Homo sapiens: one gene and its partners. The protein of the gene in region 3 interacts with the protein of the main gene of each other region in a biochemical or structural test. Each region holds a gene or a part of one and is shown on either strand. Other genes may lie near its edges. The genes, in order: CDX1, TLE2 and LEF1.

Evidence for each region.
Region 1: the proteins of LEF1 (region 3) and CDX1 form a complex in vitro, tested with the Homo sapiens proteins (one study listed by BioGRID).
Region 2: the proteins of LEF1 (region 3) and TLE2 form a complex in vitro, tested with the Homo sapiens proteins (one study listed by BioGRID).

What each region holds. Positions count from the first base shown.
Region 1 is NC_000005.10:150,164,805-150,168,551, reverse strand, and holds the start of CDX1 (homeobox protein CDX-1), read right to left. Parts: upstream 1,775-3,747; 5' UTR 1,676-1,774; coding exon 1,231-1,675; intron 1-1,230. UniProt on the Homo sapiens protein: Plays a role in transcriptional regulation. Involved in activated KRAS-mediated transcriptional activation of PRKD1 in colorectal cancer (CRC) cells. Binds to the PRKD1 promoter in colorectal cancer (CRC) cells.
Region 2 is NC_000019.10:3,022,534-3,026,280, forward strand, and holds part of TLE2 (transducin-like enhancer protein 2), read right to left. Parts: intron 2,550-3,747; coding exon 2,487-2,549; intron 1-2,486.
Region 3 is NC_000004.12:108,078,190-108,081,936, forward strand, and holds part of LEF1 (lymphoid enhancer-binding factor 1), read right to left. Parts: intron 3,481-3,747; coding exon 3,397-3,480; intron 1,426-3,396; coding exon 1,303-1,425; intron 194-1,302; coding exon 31-193; intron 1-30. UniProt on the Homo sapiens protein: Transcription factor that binds DNA in a sequence-specific manner. Participates in the Wnt signaling pathway. Activates transcription of target genes in the presence of CTNNB1 and EP300.

The DNA of each region.
Region 1 (3,747 bases), on a different chromosome or scaffold from region 3:
ACTTAGGTCATGCCTGGTCCGTTAGTTAAGTGTTCCAAAACATTAGCTGTTATTTAATCAAGGCCACAGAAGCAAGTGGCAGAGTCTGGTTCCCTGCATCTCCCTGGAGGCAGATAGGAGGTTATGTATCCCCGGGACTTCCAAAAAGGGGATATGATTATGGCCAGAACCCGTAGCTCCTGATCAAGGCCAACCCAGCATCTGCCCCGAGGCAAGCTGGGTGTGTGTGGGGAGATGGGGGTGAAGAGTGCGAGGAGGTGGGAGAAGTCCCAGGATTATTCGCAGCTGGGGTAAGGGGAGGAGGGGCTGGACATCAAAGGGTGGGCAGGCCAGCTTCCCGCCCCCAAGGCTAGGTGGCCTTTGTCAGGACAGGCCGGACACAGTCCGGACAATGGAACGTCGTGTTCACTTTCCGGCCAACAGGAGTCACTACCGAGCCAAGGCAGAGCCAGTTGCATGACAAAGGGGGGACCCATAACGGAGGTCAAGCCGCCCCTCATTAAAGTTGGGCCCTTTGTCCTGCCCCCTACCCTGCCTTTGAAGAGGGCGGATCAGAGAGGCCTGCCTGGGGGCAGGAGGTTCACAGGCTCAGGAGCCAAACAGTAGCCCCCCTTCCCACTGCTCCCGCTTCCCCTCCCCCGGGGTCAAGAGTTCAGGGAGGACCCTGAGAAGGTAAGGTACAGACCCCTTGCCCCAGTCTGGCCAAAGAGGGCTCTTTTTCAGCCTGAAGGATATGACCCAGCAATGTCTTGACTGTGTGATGGGGAGACCCAGCCCTGGCCAGGAAAGTCACCTGCCCTGTTCACACAGTTAGTTAATCGTCCCTTCTGGGGCGAACCTGCCGCCTTTGCCTAGGGCTGGGTTAGGAGTGGAAGAAGCAGATGAAGAGCACGGAGTCGGTGTTGCTAAATGAGTGTGGGACACGAGTCTGGGAGCCTGCGTTCTAGTTCGGGTCTTGCTCCGCGGCCGCAGGCGCATTTCCGCACTTCGCAGGGGGTCTCGGTTTCCCTATCTGTACAGAGAGAGGGTTAGGCTGTGCTGCTGAAGGCTCCGATAGCCTGAGACTGAGGAGAGGGAGCCAAAGAGCAGCCCCCCAGGGCGAGAGTGGACAGGAGGGCCACACTCCCGGGAACCCGAGCAGGGCCGGAGCAGAGGTCAGACAGGGGGCGGCCTGGGCCGCGCCCGAGCACCTGCAGGTCCAGAGGCGCAGGGCGAGGGAAGGGTCCTTACCGCTGCCACCGCCGCCTCCGGCCGCCACGCTGCGCCGCATCCACTCGTAGGGCGTCGGCCTCTGCGCTCCGGGCGAGGACGGTGTGCCCGGGCCCCCGAGGGGCTGCGCCAGGAGGCCCGGGCCGGGCCCAGGGGGCGCCGGCACCGGGCTAAAGTCTGGAGGGGGCCCGAATGCCAGCGAAGCTGGGCTGGCGGCAGGGGCCGCGGGGCCCGGGCCGTAGGCGGCGGCCCAGTCGTCCTTGGGCGCAGGGAAGGGCGCCCCCCAGGCCGTCGGGGGCGCGGGGGCCGGCTCCACGTGAGAGTAGCTGGAGAAGTCGGGGTACTGCGGGGGCGCCGGGGGCGGGGCCGGGGGGCCGTAGGCTTGCGGGCCCAGGCCGAGGCTGGCTGGCCTGGCTGGGCCGGGGTACACGGGCGAATCCTTGTCCAGCACATAGCCCACATACATGGTGGCCGCGGGGTCCCCCGCGCATGCTGGGCCCTGGAGCCGCCGCTGCCGGCCGCCCCGACGACGAGCAACCGCTCACCTGAACTCGGCTGTCCTGCCGCCGCGCCCGCCCCACCCAGGCCTTTTATAGCTCCGGGCCGCCCGCGGCCCCAGCCGAGGCGGGTTTGCATTTCAAAGCGGGGGGAAGCCTCCGGGCCGCGAATCAAAGGGGGAAACCCGTCGGGGGCGGGGGGTTCAAAAGGAGACAAATTGCCGCCCCAAGCGGGAGGTGGACTGGCCAGGGCCTGGAGGGGGTGGGGGCGCGGAGGGCGCGTCTTGGGCGAGGGTCGAGGCCGCGCTGCGAGTGGGAATCGCTTGCCAGGGAGCGGCCTAGCGGCCTGAACACCTTGTCCTTCCGGTGGCCGCGTGGACGGCCCTGCAGCCCCATTTTACAGGCGGAGGAACAAGCTCCCAGGGGCCGGGGGATTCTAGGCCAACTTCACACAGTGACCAGCTTGAGGTGAGGGGCAACGCAGACTTCAAACAGGGCTCCGGTCTGTAGGATCGCAGGTCCTTAATCTTTTGGCGGGGAGGGGTCACGACCCCTCTCGTCATGGAAGCTGTGGATGTTTTTCCCTGGGGAAATGCACATATGCACATACATACACGAGTCTTCCTTACAGTTGGGGGACTGCCTGGGTTGGCCTTCTAGAGAAAGTTCTCAAAAGGCAGTGTGTGTGTGGGTGTGTGTGTGTGTGAGTTAGGGGGGTCTTCTGGGGACATTACAGGAAACTTTTAGTAAATTATCTTGATGACTCTCTACCCTCTTTTTTTAATTGAGAGGTTTCAAGCATACACAAAAGTAGAATTGTATAATGAACTGCTGTGTACCCATCACCCCGCTTCAACAACTATTAAGGTTTTGTCACACTTATTTCACCTACTCCCCGCTTTTCTGAAGTATTTTAAAACAAATTCCAGACATCATGTCATTTTACCCCTACATACTTCAGCACGCATCTCTAAAACACATGGACATTTTCTTACATAATATGCCATTATCACATCTAGCAAAATTAACACAAATTCCTGGGTATTACCTAACACACAGTTCGTATTCAAAGTACTCCAATTGATTCAAAAATGTCTTTTTAGCAGTCTGTTTGTGTGAATCGGGATCCAAAAGCCCTGATCCATTTATTATGGCTGGAGCCCCCTTGGGATTTTAAATGCATCACGTGTTCCTCCACTCCATATGAAGGACTGGCAAACATTTCATAGCTACCTAAGGGGGAGTGGGGGCTGGGAACACTTGAGGGGGTGTCAGTGAACTGGGAGTGGGGACAAGGCTGAGGGATTTGGGGAAGGGTGCATGAAGGACAGGGCTCTGGGTCAGGAAGTCAGATGGGGTCCCTCCGCACAAGGGCTTTGTGCCAGGGAGCTGTGCAGAAGCACCCTGTGGGATTGGATGGGCCCACATTTCCTGGGTTCCTCTCATTGTGCAGGGATGTGTGGTCCCCAGAAGAAGGTCAGAATCAGGGTCTTATCTGTTCAACCCGTCTCTCTCTTGGGTCACCATATTAGCCGGGGGCTGGTCAGTATCATCTCAGGGCTGGGCAGATGTTTCGGGATCAGGACATAATTTGCAGGGCCGGGAGCAAAATAAAAAATATAAGGTCCCTTGTTCAAAAATGATTAAGGATTTCAGGATGGTGGCAGCAGAGCATTCACCTGAGCCCGGGGCCCTTCCACACACTGGGCTCTGTGTGACTGCAATGGTGACCCGCCTGGGAAGCTGGCCCTGGTGAGACTCTTGCTCTTCTGGGGCTCTGATATGTGATAGAGCCAGAGACTCAGCCAGCACAGGGCTCCCTCCGCTTCCTGCTCAGAGGAACCCTTTCCATTGCACAGGTAGAAGCATTGAGGCTCAGAAAGGAAAGGAGTAATGCCCAGTGTTTGCTGCAACATGAAGGCTGCTTGTAGGAGAGGGGAAGGGAAATCCTGGCTGTTGCTGACCGGGCGGAGCCCTTGGCTACCTTGCAGGAGCACATGGCTGTCCACATGTGTGTGGATCAGCACATGACACAGATGAG
Region 2 (3,747 bases), on a different chromosome or scaffold from region 3:
AAAAAAAAATTTTTTTAAGGAAAAAAATAATAGATTTAAATATTATTAATAGTTAACCTAAGTGTAAATGATCACACGGGGCTGGTGACTGCCGTGTAGGATAGCGGAACAGTAGTATATTCCACTGTATGCACTCTGAGGCTGCTTGTGTATACACGCTCCTGAAGACAGACATCTGGGCTGTCTCCACCAAGGAGGTATCAGGATGCGGATACAGAGCTCCCATGGGGGTGCACCTGTGTGTGGGTGTGTGTAGGATGGGTTGGAAGACTTTCTAGAAAGGGCCAGAGAGTGAAAACATTTTCCCTCTGCAGGCCAGAGGTCTCTGTTGCAACTACCAAACTCTGTCACTGTAATGGGAAAGCTGCTGGAAATGATATGTACATGAGTGGGCGTGGCTATGTCAATAAAACTTTATTTGCAAAAACAAGTGGAGGGGTGGAGCTGGCCCTCGAGCTGCAGTTTGCTAATTCCTGGAAATGTGTGCCTTACTCATTCCTTTCAACAGTCATTTTACCTAATCTTTTTTTTTTTTTTTTGAGACAGAATCTCGCTGTGTTGCCCAGGCTGGAGTGCAATGGTGCGAACTCGGCTCACTGCAACCTCCACCCCCCGGGTTCAAGCAATTCTCCTGCCTCAGCCTCCCGAGTAGCTGGGACTAGCCCAGCTAATTTTTGTATTTTTAGTAGAAATGAGGTTTCACCATACTGGCCAGGTGGGTCTCAAACTCCTGACCTCATGACCCGCACGCCTTGGCCTCCCAAAGTGCTGGGATTACAGGCGTGAGCCACTGGGCTCGGCCTACCTAAACTTCTTGCGGCTCTTGCCTTTCTCTAGACCACCTCGTCCCCACTTTCCGCTGCAGATGCTCTTTATGTTCTGTGTCTACACAGGACCTCTCCCCACCCCAAGCTTCCAGAAATCTCAGACTCAGTGGAATCTGAACAAACTGAGCATCTCCCCTCTGGGTTTGGTCCTCAAGGCATCAAGGATCCTCCCAGTGTATCCACTCTGAAGTAGAACTATCTTTCACGTCTCTCTGAAGAGAGAACGTACCACACAGAAACAGGGACAGTGCAGGCTGGGTACAGTGGCTCACACCTGTAAACCCAACACTCGGAGCCTGACACGGGCGGATTGCTTGAGTCCGGGGGTTCGAGACCAGCCCGGGCAACATAGGGAGACCCGTCTCTACTAAAAATACAAAAATTAGCCGGGCGTGGTGGTGCACGCCTGTAATCCCAGCTACTCAGGAGGCTGAGGCATGAGAATCGCTTGCACCCAGGAGGTGGAGGTTGCAGTCAGCCAAGATCATGCCACTGCACTCCAGCCTGGGTAACAGAGCAAGAATCCATCACACACACACACACACACAAAAGAAAAGAAAAAGAAAAAAGAAACAGGGACTGTGCAAAGGTACTGAGGATGAAAGGAACCTGGGGCACTCTCAGAAGAGCTAACTTTTTTTTTTTTTTTTTTTGAGATGGAGTCTAACTCTCTCACCCAGGCTGGAGTGCAGCGGCGCAATCTCTGCTCACTGCAACCCCCGCCTCCTGAGTTCAAGCAATTCTATTCTCCTGCCTCAGCCTCCCGAGTAGCTGGGATTACAGGCAAACACCACCATGCCCGGCTAATTTTTTTTTTTAAGTTTTAGCAGAGACAGGGTTTCACCATGTTGGACAGGCTGGTCTCGAACTCCTGACCTCTGGTGATCCACCTGCCTCAGCCTCCCAAAATGCTGGGATTACAGGCAGGAGCCACCGCACCTGGCCGAATTACAGTCCATTTTAACCATTTGTAAGTGCACAGCTCAGCAGCATAAAGCACACACACGGTTGTGCAGCCATCCCCAGCACCATCTCCAGAATTTTCCCATCTTCCCAAACTGAATTTCTGTCCCCATAAAACTCTCACTCCCCGTCCCCTCCCCAACCCCTGGCACCCCCCATTCTGCTTTCTGTCTCAGTGAACCTGACGACCCTGGGACCTCCTAGGAGTGGATCACCCAGTGTTTGTCCCTCAGTGACTTCTTCTAGCAAGACGGTAGGGTTAACTTTCATCAGGTGCTGAGTAAGCGTACCCATCATCTCCAGCACCCTGGGTGTATGAGCTCATCTCAACTTCACACCTACGCTACTGAAAAAACAGAGACAAGTGTCCTGCCTGAGGCCACACAGCCAGGATTCAGACCCAGGCAGCCAACTTGCAGGGCTTGAGGGGGTCAGCTCTATGCCTTGCTTCCCATCAAGGGGGAAAACAGCCCCCAGTCCTCACCCTCAGCCAACACCTCCCTCCATCCCTGCAGCCCCTGCCCCAGCGGGATGCCTGGCCTCAGGGCTGCGGGACTACTGCAGTGAAAATGGTCTCTATCCGTGCTGCAGGCTACGCGGCAGAATCAGTGCCTGGGGCGTCCTCGCCCAGACCTACCCCCTCCCGTCTTCTTCCGGCTCCCTTCCCCTCCTCCCCCCACCCCCAGGCCCACTCACCTCCTGGGTCAGGAAGGGGATAATCTGAGCGCAGATACCGCTCAGACGCTTCACAATCTCCGCCTGGCAGGAAGCAATGAGAGGAAGCTTGGAGCGGGGTAGAGATTTGCAACCCAGCTCTGGACTCCCAGGCGGACCAGGTGTTGGCAAAGCCGAAGGGTTGGGGAGGTGACGCCCGCAGGTGCACAGAGGGAACTCAGGCTAGCATGGCATGGGCCGAGGTGGGATTCAGAGCCCCACCAGGCTGCGTGCTCAGCTGAGCGAGGCCCAGGGTGGCCTGGAGCTGGGAAGACCAGGGCTGAGGTCCTACGAGTCACAGATACACCACCCGCCAGACGCACACCCGCCAGGGATTTGCAGGAGGCAGACGCTCAGACACCCAACTCAGACGCAGACACTCAGAGGTGCTGGGCTCAGCTGAAACAAAGGAAAGGGGCCTCCGCCTGGAGTCCCAGATTCCAGCCCCGGCTTGGCCCACGTCTGTCCCAGGCAAGGCCCCTTTCTTGGTCTCCTCCGCTTCCCAGGACTGATCTACCAGCTGGGGATGCCTCCAGGTGGAGATCTCAGCACGCCACACTCAAGGGAAGGATTTCATCTGGAGAGGGTCTGGGCCCAGGTGCCCCAAAGAGGCTGAGCAGACGAGAAGGCGTGTGGGTGGGGAAGGGGGCGGGCATACAATGGCCACGGACTTTGCCTCTGCCTGAGTTACAGGTGTGCTGTGTGTCTGGCGAAGTCTGTGTCTCCTATTCCCACCAGGAGGGTGGAACTGGGATCCCAGGGTGTCCCGCACCCCATAAAGGGGGGTCTATTGCGTGGACCCATGGGACCACGCCATGCTTCAGCAGACAAGCCCCCTCCTGCCCACATCAGAACCAACAGAACCCCCACACATGCAGGAAAGCATGCCAGGGTGGGCAACCCCAGGCACCCCACACTCCCAGCCCACCCCCTTCTCCTTCCCAGCCACCGGGAAGTCCCAATACAAGGTTCTGCTCATTGATTCTAATATTCTGATAGAATCTAGGAGCCCATGAAGCTCAGAAGTTTGGGACCCCTCTCATCCCTTTAGAAACCACTGGCCAGTCTCAGGATCTCAGGATTAAGCATGGACCACTAAAGTCAATTTTAGAATCTTTGGGTCTATTGGCCGGGCAAGGTGGCTCACTCCTGTAATCCCAGCACTTTGGGAGGCCGAGGCAGGTGGATCACCTGAGGTCAGGAGTTCAAGACCAGCCTGGCCAACATGGAGAAACCCCGTCTC
Region 3 (3,747 bases):
TGAACATTTACACATGACTCGGCTACTTACCCTTCTGCCAAGAATCTGGTTGATAGCTGCACTTTCTTTTAGAGTACACTCAGCAACGACATTCGCTCTCATTTCTTTCATGTATAACATAAAAGCATTCAGAGGCTTCTTAATGTGAGGTCTTTTTGGCTCCTGCTCCTTTCTCTGTTCATGCTGAGGCTTCCTAAAAGGTGGTGGTGGTGGTGGTTAGGGGAAGGGGTTGAAGGAATGAGGAAGGGATGGGGGAGGAGAAAAGCAGAGCACCTGCTCACATGGCTACACTCAGGATGGCGACAACCCTCTCACCCCAGACCACCACCAACTTGGAAGAGCAGTTATTGACTCATTTGACAAAACACTGAGAGGCAAACAACCCATCCAATAGGGCTTCCTATCTACTCAGTGACTGAGAATAAAACCCTTTGGTTTGAGAAAGTGGACCTGTCATTATAGAACTATGAACACCAAGTAGAAATGGACTTGGCATTGTGAAGATGCTCCAGATGGGCTCTGAGGCTGAGGACTTCTCTGGTCCCCTCAGAAGAAGCTGAACACACAGCACAGGTGATCATTCCTCTTTCAGAATAGAGGTTCTTAACTTTTGCAGGGGGTTAAGGAGCACTTTGAGAAGCTAATAAATCTTTAGACCTTTTCCCCCAAACAAATGCATGTTGCCTTTGCATACATTCGCAAGGGCTTTATGGACCATCACATGCTGCCTCTCACCCCCACCCTCCCATCCACAAAACCTAGATTAAGAAACTAATTACTCATCTCTTCAGAGTAAATTAATTTAGGCCTGCACTCACAGTCTGAGACAACCCTGGCCCAACAGGGAATCCTGGGCTTTATTTGTTCCTTTCCCTTGAATTCTGTGCTGTTGAAGCTTGGAGCCAGGGTAACTGCACTTCCAGAAGAAAGTGCATTAAACCCTCCAATCTACTTCACTCAGGTAGGAACAGGTTCTCCCCAATAATCTGAACCAAATGAAAATTCAGTGGTAAATGGCTAAACAGCTGAAGAGTCTCGAATGCCTATGTTCTGAAGATTCTTCCATTTTGGTGAGGTTCCCATGATCTTTTAGGGTCCGTGCTCCTTTGCAACCTCAGAATCAAAATCAGCACAGTAGGAATGAAGCTGCTTAATGTCCTCAGGGACAGAGTTTTCAAGGCAGAGGTGCATTGAGTTTCACAGCAACACAAAGGGGTGAAGGATCACTGTTGCAAAGGAGCAACAGTGTAGAAATCCTCAGTATCCTAAGGCAATCACAGCAGAGCCCGGGTGGATACTTACACGTGCATTAGGTCACTGTCAGTGTGGGGATGTTCCTGTTTGACCTGAGGTGTTACAATAGCTGGATGAGGGATGCCAGTTGTGTGGGGACCAGGAGGACCGGGAATCATATGATGGGAAAACCTGAAAGGAGGAAAGAGAAGAAAACAATGTACTACTGGCTGTTGCAGCAAAAGCTAGATGGAATTTCAAAGCAATCCACTAACTGCTACTGGCTAAGAGTAAAAACACATCTTTACGCACAGAAGCATTAACTATAAATTAGAGTGGGCCGATAATTATTTTTTTCTTTCTATATTCGGGTGGAAAAAAAAAAGTGAATCATTTTTCTTGCAAAGCAATTTTGAAATAGGAATTTCACGAAAAGTAATTATTGGAAATATAACACTTTATTTAAGACTTGACTTTTTAAATGATTTTTAAATGAAAGCAAAACACATCATGTTTTAAAATCTCTGCCTATATTCCTAAGCAAACCATCACAATGGGAATTTTCTCATATTATTGGCTTCCTCATCCATATTAGGAGGGAACAACTGAGAAAACGGATAGGAATCAGTCTCCCATTTAATAAGGTTTCCATTAACATCATCCAAAATGATTTTCTGTGCAGAAATACACTAATGTTTCAGAGATCTCATCTTATGGAAAACTGGTAACAGAAATAAGGAGAAGAATTTAAAGGAAGGATAAAGTTCTGCATCAAGGTTAAAAACTACACTTGCCAAAGGCTTTTTCCCAAGTACGCTTGAACAGCATTAAAAAAAATCTTAAAATATCCACCACCAGCCAACACAAAGGAGGGAAACTGCCAGGCAAGAAAAATAAAATAAAGACAGTATTTTCAATAAGCTCTCTAGATAAATTTGGATATGTTTTAGAAATTTTTGCTTTTCAAACTTTTTAAAGTAAACATTTAATTCAGCAAGAACAACATTCTCAGGTCTTTCATCACAGCCTACACAATTAATTTCCTTTTCTTGAAAGGAACTCTGCTAGGATATATATTTTTCAAAAACAAATTTTAAAATATGAAGGAAGCATGGTAAAAATACAAATATTTGACCAAATAATGATGCTTTGCTAAATGTATTACTTGCAAAAATACATGATGATAGTTATTTGCCTGTGAGAGTTCTATCATCAGATAGTTCTTACAATGTTAAAAAGTATAAAAATATGTTTTAAGGGGAAGGATATTAATTCCACCTCCTCCCACAATCAGCTACATTTACAACTCACTGAAAAAAAAAGTTTTTTTAAAGCTGTAATTCACCACAGAAACTTTGAATACTATACCCATATAAAAAAGACATATTCACAACCAGTTAATAACCCACCAGTTTGACTTCCGGCACAATAATGCTAGCTCCCTTGACAAAGCCACATCGAACACACAGATGATGCACCCCAAATGTGTGTGTACATCAAGCACAGGGCACAGTGCCATCCTCTCCAGAAGCAAAAGCATCACACACAGCAGCTTCTCGGTGCGGCGCGGCAGGCCTCCCGAGCTCCGCTGGCATGACCATGTCCACACAGGGCCTGATTCACACACTAGGACGCACACCCTGTATGGCCTGCCAGCCTGTCCGCACTGTTCTGTCTCTTCTGACAGCCTCCATCCAGGAAGGCTCTAGACTATCTGGGCATTTTCAAACACTGCCGCATCAAACTGATACAACTTTCCACAAAGGAAGCAAATTATAGAGCTGAGACCAAACCAGTTTTATCCTCCTCCCTTACCCCACCCCCGGCATATTTTGAATCAAACAAACTCTTCTTGTAATGTCCGCTTTCCGGACAGTTCCCATCCCACAGTCAGGCGGCCATGAATTTGTTTGGAGGCAACGCTTTCCAAGGAGGCTGAGTCCATCGCCCGATGGTGTGGCTGGTCCGGCCGGGGCACAGCGCAGAGCTCCTACCCGGGACTCTCTCTGACACCTAGTGTGGGAGCCAGGCACACTGCACAGACAGACACATGGCTGAGGTATGCACCCTCCTAGCCAACCAAAAGGCAAGCAGAGGCGCACAGGATGCAAGCACGAGAAGAGCAACTTGTCCTCGAGCGCCCCAGTTTCCACCTCCACCTACCTGGACATGGAAGTGTCGACTGACAGTGAGGATGGGTAGGGTTGCCTGAATCCACCCGTGATGGGATATACAGGCTGACCTTGCCTGAGGTCACAGAAGAAAGGAACCCATCAATGACAAAACACCAGTTACCAACCAGTAGTAAGAGTTGGATGAGGGGAGAAGAGGGAGATATTCAAACAGAATCTTGTGGAAGTATTACAGACCCCGGGATTGTTTCAGAAACGTAACCGTTCCCCTTCCTTACCCTCCACCCAATCAAAGTGTCATTTGCCTTGAAAGAAATCTCCCACCCTCAACTTTGAAACAAACCATCCATGAATTACATCTCTTTTATCCCATCCCCTCTCC